Linked DNA regions of Homo sapiens. The protein of the gene in region 1 interacts with the protein of each later gene in a biochemical or structural test. Each region holds a gene or a part of one and is shown on either strand. Other genes may lie near its edges.

Region 1 (3,729 bases):
TAATACAAGTGAAGAACAGAATTATCTAAAGTAATTAGCAGTGATACCATGCTTATACCTGACATTCCAACCACCTTTAGAAACACCATTATTACCTTTTTTGAGTAGTTCATCTGACCCCAAAAACTCACTTAGTATTTATTCCTTTTAATAATATAAAATTCTGCAAAGATTCTGCTCTACATTTCACTATACCAAGTTCTATTACTTACAACGGCTGGGTGGGCTGATGTCCATTACGGTCAAAGTAGGATTGTCTATGTCACTTCCCCTTCTTCTTATTCGACTATCATCATACTCTGGGGTAAAGATACTGCTTCCACTACTAGTGCTTAAGGAATGATCAGTAGGACTGAAACTCACAGGAGACCGTAAGCTGGTCCCCTGGGTCCTTCTAGCTCTTGGAAAAGTTTTACGACCTAAAAAATGAAAAGAGAATGACCTTATACCTTTTATTAATATGTTATACTTTTAAAGTATTTAAAATTTGTAATGTAGAGAATAGAAATTTGTCCTGTGACTAGGCTAAGAAACTCAAATAGGAATGATTGGGTGGGAAAAAATAAACAGGATCTGAATACAAATTCAAATAATCTCTTATGATAAAACATGTATGAGTGTGCACACAGAAACATACACACACACATCTTAAAAAGGAACCTCCTCACTTCTGGATAAAAAGGAGGAAAAAAATTTACTCTCATTTCCAATAATGATTTTAAAATCTAAAACAAAGATGCAGAAGTTCACAGGTAGTAATTTTTTTCTTTTCTTTTTGAGATGGAGTTTCACTCTTGTTGCCCAGGCTGGAGTGCAGTGGTACAATCTCGGCTCACTGCAACCTCCGCCTCCAGGGTTCAAGCGATTCTCCTGTCTCAGCCTCCCAAGTAGCTGGGATTACAGGCGCCCACCACCATGCCCAGCTAATTTTTTGTATTTTTAGTAGAGACGGGGTTTCATCACGTTGGCCAGGCTGGTCTCATACTCCTGACCTCAGGTGATCCACCCGCCTCGGCCTCCCAAAGTGCTGGGATTACAGGCATGAGCCACCGCACCTGGCCAGTAATTTTTTTTCTTAAAGGGATGATGTAAGTATCAATCTCATCATCAAAGAGTAATTTTCTAATATCATTTAAAAGTTACTCCTTTTGGATGGGTGCAGTGGCTCATGCCTGTAATCCCAGCACTTTGGGAGGCCAAGGCAGGCAGATCACTTGAGCCCAGGAGTTCGAGACCAGCCTGGGCAACATGGCAAAACCCCATCTCTACTAAAAATACAAAAATTAGGCCGGGCACGGTGGCTCACGCCTGTAATCCTAGCACTTTGGGAGGCCAAGGCAAGTGGATCACTGGAGATCAGGAGTTTTGAGACCAGCCTGGCCAACATGGCAAAACCCCATCTCTACTAAAAATACAAAAATTAGCCAGGTGAGAATCGCTTGAACCCAGGAGGTGGAGGGTGCAGTGAGCAGAGATCATGCCACTGCACTCCAGCCTGGGTGACAGAACAGAGTGAGACTCTGTCTCAGGGGAAAAAAAAAAAAGAAAGAAAGAAAATTACTCCTTCTTGGCCAAGTGCAGTGGCTCACACCTGTAATCCCAGCACTTTGGGAGGCTGAGGCAGGAGGACCGCTTGAGCCCAAGACTTCAAGACCAGCCTGGGCAACATGGTGGGACACTGTCTCTACAAAAAAAATTTTTTAATTAGCTGGGTGTGATGGCAAATGCCTGTAATGGCACACACCTGAACTCAGGAAGCCAAGGCAGGAAGATCACTTGAGCCCAGGAATTTAAAGTTACAGTGAGCTAAGATCATGCCACAGCACTCCCGCCTGGGCAACAAAACCTTGTCTCTTAAAACAAAAAATTATTCATTTTCTTTTAAGGGATAACCAAGTCTTATAAGTTGTCATAAAGCCAAAATGCCCATTATACTTTTGTTATAACACAATTCCTCATATTTTTCTAATGGTATTAACACAAATATGAGGTTTTAAAAAATTTTTGTATTTATTTTTGTTGTTGAGATTTTTTAACTATTCTTGTGGTCTAATTGCTAGAAACTTACCATCATTATACTCTTGATGATGATATGAAACATGATACCTTCTTGGATATGTTCCTCCTTTTCCAAATTTCTCAAAGATAGGGTTATCATAGTCTGTTAAGACATATAAGATGGTTATCTTTTATTTAAAAAAAAAAGTTAAATATTTCTAATGATGAAAAGCACATTTATAAATCTTTATTTGACTTTTCAAAAATCCCCCCTCTCCCTCCCAGCCAAAACATTATCCAATGACATAAACATTTAAACATTTAGAATTTATAAAGTCTAACCTGAAAATTCCTGATGATTATCTGGGTAGCTCTGAGCCCTAGGCATTCGTGATTTTGGATAGCTCTCTCTATAAAGAAAAAACATCACATTAAGTTTACAGAAAGAACGTAAGACATTAAAAAGAAAATCTTTGAGCAATATCTATATCTATCTGTGCCTCTCTGTATGTGTTTGTGTAAAGGAGCTCACTTTGAAAGGTTAGCATACCTAAAAAAGAAAAACTACACTTACTTGGTACATGTAGGCAAAGAGCATGACTTAAAATTAACCTTACAGTACAGTGGAAGAATGACGTATTTTGGAATCATTAGGTGTTTCTAAGCACTGTGTTTCAATCCAAGCTCTGCCACTTAACTATGTAACCTTGGCAAATCACCCTTCTGCATCAACAAAAAAGATAATTTCCAACTATTCAAGTGTACATAAGTAAGGTATCCAGGATAGTGTTTTGCAAATGGTAAGTACTCAAATATATAGCTTTCTCGTTACTACTTCCCTGAATTTCTTAAATGTCTACCTTAAGATAGACATTGACACAGACAGAAATTTCATATACATGGATAAAAGAAACTTAAATGTGCATTCCCACGCAATATTAGTTATTTTTTTCAGAATTTGCTTTCATAAAGCAATTCCAGAGAGGATTACCAAGAATACTGTCCTATTGAGACCAGGAGGGGGAGCACGTGTAACAAAAAATTCACATTTTGCAACTTTATCCTGCTCATATTCCTGAACAGCTTTTTCACAAAAGTACTTAAATTTTTGCCTACATGTACCAATGTGACACAGTGGGCTACAATTTCCAAGAATTTAAATTATTTCTAATCTGGTGCCAGAATGAACATAATCCTGAACAGGTGAAATAACTCAGGAAATTTCCAAAACCAAACATATTAATGTAAAAGTTGATAGCACTTTTCATAAACACAGTTTTAAAAGTAAATGTACATAAATTCTAAATTTGATTTGCCTTCAAACACACAATTTTGACAAGCAGGAATACTCAAACTATTATAATCAGATTTCCTTTTAACTAACAAAGATACTGAGTCCCATGAGGTAAAGGGATTTATCCACACTGTGCAAAAATTCATCTGCCGTCATCATACACAAGTACCAATTCTATTCCTCTGAATGTAGCACAAAAAAGTTACTGATAATTCAACATTCTATCTGTATGAATATTTACTCATATCTATTAAAAAAGAAAACTACAGTAAGCTGAGCATGGTGGCTCATGTGTGTAATCCCAGCGCTTTAGGAGACCAAGGCAGGAGGTTCGCTTGAGCCCAGGAGTTCAAGATCAGCCTGGGTAACAAAGTGAGACCCCCATCTCTACAAATAATACAAACAAAATAGCCAGATGTGGTATTAATAGCAAATGC
Region 2 (3,729 bases), on another chromosome or scaffold:
TAAAAATTTTCAATCTTGGCTGGGCATGGTGGCTTAAGCCTGTAATCCCAGCACTTTGGGAGGTTGAGGTGGGCAGACCACCTGAGGTCAGGAGTTCGAGACCAGCCTCGCCAAAATGGCAAAACCCTGTCTCTACTAAAAATACAAAAAAATTAGCTGGGCGTGGTGGCGCGTGCCTGTAGTCCCAGCTACTAAGGAGGCTGAGGCACGAGAATCGCTTGAACCTGGGCGGCAGAGGTTGCAGTGAGCTGAGATTGCGCCACTGCACTCCAGCCTGAGCGACAGAGCGAGACTCCGTCTCAATTAAAAAAAAAAATCAATCCTCTTTGGTTTAATGTAAGGTCAAAATTTAAGCATGGGCTTGTGTGATTCTATAGCTCATCTTCTCTTCTTTCACGATGTTACCTTTGATAATAACTAACATATGTAATGTGCTTTACAATTTAGAATGTTTTCATATATGGAATCTAATTTAACCTACATAATATATCATAGGCCTCATCTGAAATATGAGGAAACAGTAGTTCTGACTGTTACTCATCAAAGGTCATGCACCCAGTGATTATGACCAATATAGGTCTAAGGAAATTACTACAAGGATTACTGGCAGAAGGGACAGTCCAATGAGGTAGCAGAAAATGTTAGGCTTCCTTCCCTTTCAAGGCCTAAAAAATTAGCTAGAACCATAGAAAGGTTAAGTCACATGGTAATATATGCTGAGATGTCTGTGTTTTTTTTTTCTTTTCTTTATTTTTGAGATGGAGTCTCACTCTGTCATCCAGGCTGGAGTACAGTGGCATGATCTCAGCTCACTGCAACCTCCACCTCCCAGGCTCAAGTAATTTTCCTGCCTCAGCCTCCTAAGTAGCTGGGATTGCAGAGGCATGACCCAGCTTTTTTTTTTTTTTTTTTTTTTGTATTTTTTTAGTAGAGATGGGGTTTTGCTCTGTTGGTCAGGCTGGTCTTGAACTCCTGACCTCAAGTGATCCACCTGCCTCGGCCACCCAAAGTGCTGGGATTTCAGGTGTGAGCCACTGCGCCCAGCCAGATGTCTGTATTTCTGTATTTAAGGTGAATAAGATGATTACAGAAATAAGAATAAAATTTCAAACCATAATATTTTATAAGTACCAGGGAATGCACAATGGCAGCAGCCTTGTCCGGTTTAAGAAATCAGCTTTAATCCACTTGGTTCAACATCTGACCATCTGAGATCAAGCTATTCTCAGTCTGTACAGGTAAACGTGACTTTTCACTATGACCCATATCCTCGAAAATACATAAAACTATATCATAACAAGGTGAATCACATGTATCCATAACAAAGACTGGGTACCAAATCATACCAAAATCAAATCCCAAAATGTATCAAACAGCAGAGCTACAAATGTATCACAATTTAAAACAATAAAAGCCCATGCCAAGTCCTGCAAAATGGACATAAGTATGTTTTTATCATATAAAGGATAACCTATTATTAACCACATACAGAGCAGATAAAATATATAATCCATAAATTTGGCCTCAAATTCCTGTTTTTGTTTTTTGAGATAGGGTCTTGCTCTGTCCCCCAAGCTGGAATGGGGTGCCCTGATCTTGACTCACTGCAACCTCCACCTCCTGGGCTCAAGTGATCCTCCCACCTCAGCCTCCAGAGTAGCTGGGATTACAGGTGCACGCACAACCATGCCCAGTTAATTTTTCTATTTTTAGTAGAGATAGCATTTTACCATGTTGCCCAGGCTGGTCTTGAACTCCTGGACTCAAGGGATCTCCCTGACTTGGCCTCCCAAAGTGCTGGGATTAAAGGCATGAGCCACCATGCCTGGCCTGGGATTGTTATGTGGAATTTTTTTCCTTGACAAAATCTCAGATAATCAGGCTTAAAAACTATTATAATGGGTTTTGAATCGTTGGAATCAACTAGTCCTTAAGCCCAGCCACCCTGGGTTTTTTGTTTGTTTGTTTGCTTGTTTGTTTGTTTTGAGACAGGGCCTCACTCTTGTCACTCAGGCTAGAATGCAGTGGTGCCCTCATGGCTCACTGCCACCTTGACCTCCCGGGCTCAAGCGATCTTCACAGGCGCGTGCCATCACATCCAGCTAATTTTTTTATTATTGGTAGAGACGGGGTCTCACGATGTTGCCCAGGCTGGTCTCAAACAATCCTCCCACCTCAGCCTCCCAAAGTGCTGGGCTTACAGGTATGAGTCACCATGCCTGACCCTGTTACTTTACAGATGAAGAAAGTGCAGTATAAAATAATACACTGGATAAATAAAAAATGTATTTTGAAAGACTTCAGGCTGGGCGCAGTGGCTCATGCCTGTAATCCCAGGACTTTGGGAGGCCAAGGCAGGTGGATGACCTGAGGTCAGGAGTTCGAGACCAGCCTGGCCAACATGGTAAAACACTATCTCTACTAAAAATAGAAAAATTAACTGGGCATGGTTGTGCGTGCGCCTGTAATCCCAGCTACTTGGGAGGCTGAGGCAGGAGAATCACTTAAACCCAGGAGGCAGAGGTTGCAGTGAGCTGAGATTGCACCAATGCGCTCCAGCCTGGGCAACATGAGCAAAACTCCGTCTCAAAAAAAAAAAAAAAAAAAGGCCAGGTACGGGGGCTCACACCTGTAATCCCAATACTTTGGGAGGCCAAGGCGGGCGGATCACAAGGTCAGGAGTTCAAGACTAGCCTGGCCAACATGGGGAAACCATGCCTCCACTAAAAATACAAAAATTAGCCGGGCGTGGTAGCACATGTCTATAATCCTAGCTACTCAGGAGGCTCAGGCAGGAGAATCACTTGAACCCAGGAGGCGGAGATGCAGTGAGCTGAGATTGTGCCACTGCACTCCAGCCTGGGGGACAGAGTGAGACTCTGTCTAAAAAACCAAACCAAACCAAAAAAAAAAAAAAGACTGCTGGGCGCAGTGGCTCACACTTGTAATCCCAGCACTTTGGGAGGCTGAGGCGGGCTAATCACGAGGTCAGGAGATGGAGACCATGGTGAAACCCCGTCTCTACTAAAAATACAAAAACATTAGCCAGGCGTGGTGGCGGGCACCTGTAGTCCCAGCTACTTAGAGAGGCTGAGGTAGGAGAATGGCATGAACCCAGGAGGCGGAGGTTGCAGTGAGCTGAGATCGCACCACTGCACTCCAGCCTGGGCGACAGAGCGAGACTCCGTCTCAAAAAAAAAAACAGAAATGTTAACTATAGAATGTTGAAGGGGGGGGGGGGATTAAAACAACCTGTAGACAATATGATCGTCATTATTCTATTTCATAAATTTTCTATAATAAACACATATCTCTGGCCAGGCACGGTGGTTCATGCCTGGAATCCCAGCACATTGGGAGGCCGAGGCGGGCAGATCACATGAGGTCAGGAGCAAGACTCCGTCTCAGAAAAATAAATAAATACATAAAATAAAATAAGCCAGGTGTGGTAGCACACCTGTAGTCCCAGCTACTTGGGAGGCTGAGGCAGAAGAATCGCTTGAACCTGGGAGGCGGAGGTTCAGTGAGCCAAGATCTCACCACTGCACTCCAGCCTGGGTGACAGAGCTAGACTCTGTCTGAAAAATATATATATTATATATGTAATATATTTTACATATTATATTGTGTTATATATTATATATATTTTACATATATTGTATTATATATTATATATAATATATTATACATGTAATATATTATATACTATATTATATATATCATACATTA

The links. The genes of interacting proteins can lie anywhere in the genome.
Region 2: of the proteins of MAP3K2 (region 1) and XIAP, one has a biochemical effect on the other in vitro, tested with the Homo sapiens proteins (2 studies listed by BioGRID, with this or other methods).

The regions. Positions count from the first base shown.
Region 1 is NC_000002.12:127,321,834-127,325,562, forward strand, and holds part of MAP3K2 (mitogen-activated protein kinase kinase kinase 2), read right to left. Parts: intron 2,409-3,729; coding exon 2,341-2,408; intron 2,162-2,340; coding exon 2,069-2,161; intron 420-2,068; coding exon 213-419; intron 1-212. UniProt on the Homo sapiens protein: Component of a protein kinase signal transduction cascade. Regulates the JNK and ERK5 pathways by phosphorylating and activating MAP2K5 and MAP2K7. Plays a role in caveolae kiss-and-run dynamics.
Region 2 is NC_000023.11:123,866,550-123,870,278, reverse strand, and holds part of XIAP (E3 ubiquitin-protein ligase XIAP), read right to left. Parts: intron 1-3,729.